2 linked regions of the Homo sapiens genome follow. The protein of the gene in region 2 interacts with the protein of the main gene of each other region in a biochemical or structural test. Each region holds a gene or a part of one and is shown on either strand. Other genes may lie near its edges.

Region 1 (7,047 bases), on a different chromosome or scaffold from region 2:
GTACTGTAAAACTTTTTTTTTCTTTTCGAGGCAGAGACTCACTCTGTTGCCAGGCTGGAGTGCAGTGGCATGATCTCGGCTCACTGCAACCTCTGCCTCCCAGGTTCAAGCAATCCTCCTGCCTCAGCCTCCCAAGTAGCTAGGACTACAGGCGTGTGTCACCACGCCCAGCTAATTTTTGTATTTTTAGTAGAGATGGGGTTTCACCATGTTGGCCAGGATGGTCTCAATCTCTTGAGCTTGTGATCCACCTGCCTCGGCCTCCCAAAGTGCTGGGATTACAGGTGTGAGCCACCACCCCCGACCCTATTTTTTTTTAAAGAGTATCTACTTTGATATATATATATTTTTTAATCTTCACAAACCAACTCTGAAACTGACGGGACCTGGGAAGAAAAATAATCAACAATTCTAATTCCAAAACCAAGAGGAAATAAATGTCAAAGATAAGCTTCATAGACAGCCAAAAGAACTTCTAAAATGTTTTTTCAGGTGGATGAATACATTTCTGATCTGAGAAATCACAAGAAAATCTGACTTTCAAAACAATTCTAACGGACGTTTTCTCTTTAAAACAGACAGAACGGAATACTAGGAAACTTGAAAGAAGACACACTCAACAGTCTCCAAAACCATGGTCCTAATCCCAAAAGATCACTGAGCATCTCTGAAGCCACTGGGCATATAACACCAAGGCTCCACGGCTGTGAGAGTTCAGCCTCTACTTTCCCAAGCTCTTATCTTTACAAACCACCATGTAATGCTCACAACTGACATCTCCCCAGCAGTACGCCTGTCTGGAAGCCCACACATCCAAGATCGTTACCAACTGCAACTTAAATGGTCTTACCAACTCCTGTTTCCTCAACTTCATCCACATCTATGACCTGAGGGTGCTGCTGGTGAAAAGTCTCCACTGCCAACTGGAAAGACCTGGTTCTCTCTGTGGGAGGTCCAAGGGGCCTTTCGGTAGCTGCCCGGCGCGGGGAGAGGACGCTGGGCACACTGTATGTGTCAGCACCTCCCCTTCTCAGAGCCTTGTAGGAGAAGGGCGTGGTGCCCACATCCTCCAGGCCCAGACGAGTGGTCGCCAGGTCATAATCTTCATCCTCATCATCATACTCTGCCCCATCTTCAGTTCCGAGGATCACGTCTGCAGGCACCACGCCATTGGTGGTGGCTGGACTCCCAATCTCAAACACCCAGACACCCTGCTGCCCAGAGTTACTACTCCTAGGAGGAAGGACAGGCTTCTTAGAAACAGGCCAGCAACCCACCAACAGCCACCACTACCCAAGCAGAGGGAGCCCTGAGGATCTGTGTTGGTCTGCAAGCCATCACCTGCAGCTAGGACTGGAGAGTGGAAGGGCACTGGCCGTCATGTCTGGGCGTCATGTGGCTGAGGCAGTCTAGGGCTGTCTGGTGAGACTGTGTCCAAATGGGCACAATACTAGCACAAGCTCAGTCCCAGCCATTCCAGAAGTGTGCTCCAGGGACACTATCAGGACTTAAAATTCAACTTGCTCATCCTAATTGCTGGTTACATGCTCTACCTTATGAGCTAAGGTGGCTCATAGGACTGACAGTGGCTTTAGGACTGAAGTCATTCATGCTCTCCACTATCTCTTTCCATGACATGGTATGATACAATTGAAAATACATGTTTGGTCTCTGTCCTCACATTCTGAAACAAGAGCTCCTACAGCCTTTGGAATTTCTGAAGTGATAAGAGTGTCTTTTGTAGGCTAATGAGTTGACTGATGGCTGGGAGCTCCTAGACAGTTTCAGGATGGGGGCTGGTGGCCAGAAAGACCAAGGCATGATTAGAAGGTTGGAATGTCCAGCTTTCCCCACTGCCTCCAGGGAGGGGAGATGGGCTGGAGATTGAGTCAATCACCAAGGATCAGTGATTTAATCAACTGTGCCTATGAAATAACACCACCATAAAAACCCTAAAATGATGGGGTTCAGAGAGCTTCTGGGTTGAACACATCAAGGTGCGGGAAGGCTGGTGTACTCAGAGACGGCATAGAAACCCTGCCCCCTTACCCATACCTTGTCCTATGCCTCTCTTCCATTTGGTTGTTCCAGAGTTGTATCCTTTAGAATGAACTGGTAATAGTGAAGCATTTTTCTGTGTTATGTGAGCCATTCTAGCAAATTATCAAATCTGAGGAGCATGCCATGGAAACCCTCCATTTATAGCTGGTTGGTCAGAAGTACAGGTGGAAACACAGGACTTGGGACTGGCATCTGAAGTGGGGGCAGTCCTGTGGGACTGAGCCCTTAACCTGTGGGGTCTGCAGTAACGCCAGTGCTAGAATTGAACTGAAGTGTAGGACACCCGGCTGGTGTGCAGAGAATTGGTTGGTGTGGGAAAAAAAACCCCACCCATTTGGTGTCAGAAGTGTGAGTGAAAACATTGCAGACGTGGTTTTTTAGAAATCCCAACTCCAGGGCCGGGCGCGGTGGCTCACACCTGTAATCCCAGCACTTTGGGGGGCTGAGGAGGGCAGATCATGAGGTCAGGAGATCGAGACCATCCTGGCTAACATGGTGAAACCCCGTCTCTACTAAAAATACAAAAAATTAGCTGGGCGTGGTGGTGGGCGCCTGTAGTCCCAGCTGCTCGGGACGCTGAAGCAGGAGAATGGCGTGAACCCGGGAGGCAGAGCTTGCAGTGAGCCAAGATCGTGCCACTGCACTCCAGCCTGGGCGACAGAGCAAGACTCCATCTCAAAACAACAACAAAAACAACAAAAAAAGAAATCCCAACTCCATTGGCTGTGAGATCTTGGACTAGTCTCAGTTTACCTTTGGTGCTTAAAGGATATGGTGAAAAGCAAATGAGATACAAAATCCAAAAGCATTTTATAACTATAAAATATAGTAGAATATCCCTAATCTCTACTTCTTCCTCCACCATTTTTACCATTCTTCTGTGTCTGTGATTGGAAGTGCTCCTATCAGAAATTACATGAAATAATTATATTATACGGTGGACAGAGGGGACATACATTACTCAGTGGAAAATACTGAGCAAAACAATGGGGTGGGGTGGGGATGATAAATCACAAAAGTCCTGCATAAATAGGATGTCTAATCAATTTGTCTGCCTGGGATTCAAGTAAAGACAGTGGTGTGTGGGAGCTTATATGGACTAGCTTGTGAGAGCTGGCTGTTAAAGTTTTAGGAATTTTGCAAGCCAGTTATTAAACACAGCCATTCTAAACAATTAAATTACATGAACTTCCAATTAAACAAGTTATATTTTTTAAAAGGAAAAAATATTCAAAACTCATCATATTCTAATCCTTTTGCTACTGTCCATGCTCTTGAAATTATATATATTAAACCTATTTTATCTTTATGGTGAGAATATATATAATGGTGCATGTTTTCTGAACTCTTCAATGAGTGACATGACGTTAATAACTTGAACTTGGCCATCGTAGGAGTATTTACATCACAGAAACAGGCAAACGCTATAAATCAGGTTCCTCTGCCCTCATAAAACCAGTTGTTAAGCATTTACCAGCACATCACTAAGTGAAGGGCAGAGGAATTCAAGCTAGATTTGAAGATATAAAATTAAAAGGTGGTTTTAGGGGATTCACTCTTGGTTTTTAAAGAATAATGGGAGAGGAAAGGTTTTAATCTTCAAAATCCAATTTGGGCTTTTCCCTCTTTTGTCAAATTCTACAACATAACCTGAGAGCACCATTTCTGTTGTAAGAATATTCCCCCTAGTCAATGTGAAGGAAAAGGTTTTCTCAGCCTTGAGATCAAAGGAGATAGGTTTGAATAACCCTTATTTCTAACAGTGTTTATAGACAAAATGGTAAAAACTGTCTTAAGGCCGGGCGCGGCACTTCATGCCTGTAATCCCAGCACTTTGGGAGGCTGAGGTGGGCAGATCACCCGAGGGCAGGAGTTCAAGACCAGCCTGGCCAACATGGTGAAACCCCGTCTCTACTAAAAATACAAGAATTAGCTGGGCATGGTGGCACACACCTGTAATCCCAGCTACTTGGGAAGCTGAGGCGAGAGAATCACTTGAACCTGGGAGGCAGAGGTTGCAGTGAGTCGAGATTGTGCCATTGCACTCCAGCCTTCCAGCTTGGGCAACAGAGTAAGGCTCTGTCTCAAAAAAAAAAAAAAAAAAAAAAAAAAGAACTATTTTAAATGAGGATGATATCTAAAAAATAGGATATCTGTTCATTCTAAAAATACATTTCCTTAAGTTCATCAGAAAAAGAGTATCTCATAATATAAAAACTATATGCAAAACTTAAATCCATAGGAACATTTTTAGGTAATGATCTATAATACACATTACATTATCCACATTAAAAAATATTAAGAGGAGAATCTACTGAAGAACAAAGAAAGCATACTTGGCCAAATTTTCAACTGATTCCCTGTCATTAGCAAATATGTTATAAGCTCCGTTGCTCTTCCATAAGAATCCCACTGAACCTTGACTGAATGCAACCACGGCAGGAACTTGGTTGTTTTCCTTCTTTGAGAATGTCGTATGGAACTGCAGACCATCCTCAGGATAAAGGAAAATGGCATAGGAGCTGGAATCAGAGGAGGCTAGAACAGCCTGGAACGTGTTTCTCTGTGAAGATGAGTTAAAATTCAGTTACTCGGAAAAATATCGATAGATTTTAAAATGTGTTATTCGCCAGACTATCTATAAAGCGTACAGTGCTATAGAGCGATGGCAATATTCTCACCTTATTCTAAAAGAAGGACTTTTGTAGCAAGAACCTAGGATTCTGGGATAGTTCCACTGAAATATCCCTAAGGCTATGTCAACATGACATTTTCTGATTAATTCATAAATATCTTCTGCATAACTGTGGCCCTAAGGTTAACCAAAAATTATACAGATGGTACCTCCAGATGGTGGCCTAAAATCTCACGCAGTTTAGGAAATTCTTACCCAAAGACTTTGTTTCCATGGCTGTTAACATATTCAACCGCATTCATCGTTTAACAAACATTTATTGAACCCAAGCACCGTACAGTAGAAAAAACAAAACAAAACATGAGATTTGGGAGAAAACAGACCTGGATCCAAATCTTTGCTCTACTCATTATTATGTGACTTGGGCGTGATACTTGAGTTCCCTAAGCCTCGATGTTTGCATCTGTAAAATGGAGATAAAACCACCTCCTTCACAGAAATGAGGAAGACTACATGAGGTCACGTATGAAAGAGCAGGCACATGCCGGGCGCGGTGGCTCATGCCTGTAATCCCAGCACTTTGGGAAGGCTGACATGTGAAGAAAACATTGCAAAACCTGAGGTTGGATTCTGTAATCGAAACATTTGCAAAGCGCTGCAGGAGCCGTAAGAGGAAGCGTCCCATGCCAGGAGCGGTGGGAGTGCATCCCATGCCAGGAGGCTGTGGTTGGTCAAGGCCTCACGGGAGGGCCCAGTCTGAATGAACAAGCAGGAGGAAGCTGCCACCTGTAGGGGGGTCAGGGAGAGGACGTCCCAAACAGAGAGGACAGCCTGTGCAAGATACTGCGGATAAAAAAAAAAGAGCAAGGGCAAGGTCAGGGAATTACATGTAATTTGGTATAGCGGCTGCAAAGGGTATGCGGAGGTGGAACAGATTAGGCCCAAGAGGCAAGCAAGGGATCCATACCAATGGGTTAGGCATTTATCACCCAAGTGAAAGGGAGGCAGCTGAGACACTTAACATTTAAGCTGTTTTCAAGTTTGGCACTCAGACAGATAACAGTTGGCAAGCAAAATGTGTCATGCAGGCCCCTAACAGACTTTCCCAAAGTGTGCTCTGTGGGATGTAATGCATCTTTTTTGGAGCGGGGGAAGGGAAGAGGTATGGTCACAGGTTTGGAGACTGCTCAGTTAAACAATATTCGGCAAGGCTGGAATGGTGGCTCACGCCCTTAGTCCCAGCTACCTGGGAGGCTGAGGCAGGAGAATCACTTGAACCCAGGAGGTGGAGATTGCAATGAGCCAAGATGGCACCACTGCACTCCAGCCTGGGTGACAGAGCAAGACTCTGTCTCAAAACAAAAACAAAAACAAAAACAAAAAAAGTAGTATTAGGCAAGTTGCAAGTTTCCTGACTGCAGGACTTTTCAGAGTGAACAGGGTGAATCACCAAGAGGGAGATATAGTTTTAGCATTTCCCAAACTAGAAGGCCTTTTCCTCAAGGTGTATCTTGTAGGACTGGTGTTTTGTGGTACACACTTTAGGAACCACCAGCCTGAAATACCTCCCATTTATATGAAGTGCTTTGGGACCCTTCAAGTTTCTTTCTTCCTCATTTTCCTATAAAGGTGAAGTTATGGTAGAGAGAAATTATTTTTCCAAGGGAAAATCGAGGCCTGTCCTAAAAAGTCACTTCAGGTCTAACAACGAGTTCCTGACCTACTCAAAGACCCTGCTTCCTTCAAGGGCAAGTCCGTGCTCTACAGCCTGGTCCTTCCAGCCGTCCCTGATGACTGCGCCCACGGAGAGGCCAACCCTGGGTTATGACAATACTTGGGTTTTGAACCACTCACATGGTCCAAATGATTCTTGTCTCCCCAACTAGAGTCTGGGCTTTACCTTTCTATCTTTGCATCCCTCAGGAGTACTTTGTTATTTTAACCTATCGTTTCATATTAATAATTTCTCTAGTCAGAAACTATCCTTCCAGCCGGGCTCGGTGGCACACACCTGTAATCCCAGCACTTTGGGAGGCTGAGGTGGGTGGATCATTTGAGGTCAGCAGTTGGAGACCAGCCTGGCCAATGTGGTGAAACCCCATCTCTACTAAAAATACAAAAATTAGCCAGTGTGGTGGCCCATGCCTGTAATCCCAGCTACTCGGGAGGCTGAGGCACAATAATTGCTTGAACCTGGGAGGTGGAGGCTGCAGAGAGCTGAGATTGTGCCACTGTACTCCAGCCTGGGCAACAGAGCAAGACTCCATCTCAAAAAAAAAAAAAAAAAAAAAAAAAAGGCCGGGCATGGTGGCTCACGCCTGTAATCCCAGCACTTTGGGAGGCTGAGAAGG
Region 2 (2,827 bases):
TATATTTAACTCTAGACCCACGGAGCCCGAGCAGGGTCATCAGAGCTGGGTCCCGACACCTGCTCTGATGCTCGCTGTGGGCTGGGGGCACATCGCTTCCGCTCTCAGGGCCTCAGTTTCCCAGGTTCCTTCAGGCTCCTGCCCAGGTCTACTGCCTGACCTGACAGCTCAGCAACAGGGGCCAGGACAAGTTCTGGACAACATCCAAGTGACAGGCCATCAGTGGAGGTCTTCATGGGGGGAAGGCAGAGGAGGGAGGAGGGAGGAGGAAGGAGGAGGGAAAGCTGAAGTGGTAAAAGCAGAATAAAGAGCCTGGTCAGTGACTGATCACACTGGGGTGCCCTCATCCCAAAGTGAACTTCAGGTTCGGGGCTCGTTGAGAAGGACATCAAGGTCTTCATCAATGAATTGACATGCTGGCCAGGCCATAGAGCCCTGTGACATCTGGACAACGTTGTCAAACTCTGAACACTTTACAAAAGTAAAGGGACCAAGAGGCGTTTTCCTCTGTTACTTTATAACCCTTTCATACTAGTTGAACTTTTTTTTATATAATGTACATGTACTACTTTATAGTTAAACAAAAAACTTTAAAATGATTTTTTAAAAAAGAAAAGAATTAATCACAGTGGAACATGAAATGGAATGTCAACTTTGGGGACGGGTCATCCAGAGGAGTCCAAGAGCCCCAACATGGTCGCGTGTCTCTGGTCCTCAGGTCATCACCCAGCCTCACCCACAGGGCACCCGCCACGGCCGTGGCCCACCGTGCAAGCTTCCACTTGGTGCCTGCGTGGGAACGCACCACCTGCCGTGGAACTTCCTCCTGCGGGGCAGAGGAGGGGTCCAGAAGCCACAGGAGTCAAGTCAGCAAAATTAAGTTAATTTACAAAGTTATAGTAAAAACCACAATAGTGACCCAGTCCCTCCCACGCAGTGTGAGCCCTGGGCTGCGCCACACCCGCAGGTGGCCCGTGCTGGCACCTCACAGGGCAAAGGTGGTGAAGAAGATGTGCATCTTGGCCAGGAAGGTGGTGACGGAGCCCTGCCTCCAGAGCTTCATCTCCACGTCCAGGGCAAAGTCCCGGGGCTCCAGCACGGCCCGCTGCAGGTAGACCACACCCGTGTAGGCATTGAGCCTGCGCGTGCCAAAGTAGCCCTCCTCATTGCCCTTGATGATGTTCAGGGCGATGGTGTCCCCCGTGAAGGCTGGCGCGGGGCCAATGCGGAAGATATGCGCAGGCACCAGGAGGCCCGTCTGGAAGTTGAGCTGGTAGTGCGTGATGCGCGCTGGCGAGTTCTGGCACTCCAGGAAGTCATGGCACGTGGTGCGCTCGCACTTCCTGCAGGGAGGATAGGCCGGGTCACCCACAGCTCGCCCACCCCCCTCATCCCCAGACGGGGACACAGATGGCACAGCTCAGCGGCAGGATCAAGGGCCAGCTCTCTCCCTAATGGCCGGGAAGCCTCAGGCAAGTCCCCTTACGTCCCCTGGGTCTCAGTTTCCTTGCCTGCGAGATGAGGTTAATAAAACCTTCACCGGCTCACTGGAATGGGTGAGTTTAGCATGGCACTGGCCAGGCTCGTTAACAGCTCTTACCTGTCCCCATGCTCCTTTCTTCCTCCCTCCTGCCATCCTCCCATTCTTCCTTTCTCCTTCCTTTTCCCTCTCCCCTTCCCTTCCTCCTCCTTCTCCCTTCTTCCCAGTGCACCCAGTGTCCCTCCCAGGGTCCCTCCCAAGTGCCGGGCCGTGTGGCTGGTGGCAGAGTAGCGGTCTGTCAGTTCTGAGGTTAAGTGAGGTTAAGGGGCTGCCGCTGGCACTTCTGATACACTGAGCTGGGGAGTGGCATGTCACAAGCAGCCTTGTGGAGGGGCTCATGTGATGCGGAGCTGAGGCCTCCTGCCCAGAGCCCCATGAGCAGTGGCAGGATCCCGCACCCCGGACAGGCAGCCCCTGAGATCCTGAGCCAGACCACCTAGCTACACCACTCCCAGGCTCCTAGCCCTCAGACACTGCGTGACAAAGAGTAAGTATCTGTTGTATTCTGGTGCTAAATGTTGGTTGGGATAACTGGTCACACAGCAGTAACTACCATGTGTGTGTATGAGGAAGAGGGCTGGTGTTTTCTGTGTGTCTTTTCCCCTTCCTTCTCTCAACCCTGAACTCTCTAAAAGCTACTTATATTTGTTTTGGTCACCTAGCCCACAGACCCAGCAGTCAGGGGCTGGGACGAGAGGGAGGTGATCAAGGCAGGCGCCCATCTCTCAGCCTCTCCCTGGATAGTACAGGACCAGGACAGGCTCCCTGGGACTGGGACTGGGGTGGGGACACTCACGTTTTGGAGACTTGGACATAGTTGGGAGGACACTCGAAGCGCAGGCAGCGGAAGCTACCCTGGATGTTGTGGCAGGTCTCAGCCTCGGAACAGTTGTGGGTACCCAGTGCACACTCATCCACGTCTGGGGGAGAAGAGGGGCAATGGCAGGGTCCCCACAGCTGGGGGACCCAGCCTGAAACTCCCCAGCCTGCATGAAAGGCCTGGGCCCCACGGCAGCCGGACCTGTGAGAATAGCCCGCGTGCCTCCCTGCACACACATGCCCCATCTCACCTGCTCGGCACCCCGCAGCAGGGGGCCTGGCTCTAAAGTGTCAATCACCTCATGTCATGCCCTCCCAAGGCTTCTCGCGCTCCAGAATAAAGCCCAGCTCCCTCCCCTGGATGCCAAGCCACACAGTGCAAGGCTCTCTGGCCTCTCTAAGCTCCTTCTCTTCCACAGAGGCCACAGTCCTGCTGGACATCCTTGGGCTGCCCCAATAGCCTGACCC

Evidence for each region. The genes of interacting proteins can lie anywhere in the genome.
Region 1: the proteins of FBLN2 (region 2) and NID1 form a complex in vitro, tested with the Homo sapiens proteins (one study listed by BioGRID).

Annotation. Positions count from the first base shown.
Region 1 is NC_000001.11:236,041,060-236,048,106, forward strand, and holds part of NID1 (nidogen-1 precursor), read right to left. Parts: intron 4,625-7,047; coding exon 4,398-4,624; intron 1,234-4,397; coding exon 851-1,233; intron 1-850. UniProt on the Homo sapiens protein: Sulfated glycoprotein widely distributed in basement membranes and tightly associated with laminin. Also binds to collagen IV and perlecan. It probably has a role in cell-extracellular matrix interactions.
Region 2 is NC_000003.12:13,636,078-13,638,904, reverse strand, and holds the end of FBLN2 (fibulin-2 isoform a precursor), read right to left. Parts: intron 2,461-2,827; coding exon 2,337-2,460; intron 1,344-2,336; coding exon 986-1,343; 3' UTR 501-985; downstream 1-500. UniProt on the Homo sapiens protein: Its binding to fibronectin and some other ligands is calcium dependent. May act as an adapter that mediates the interaction between FBN1 and ELN.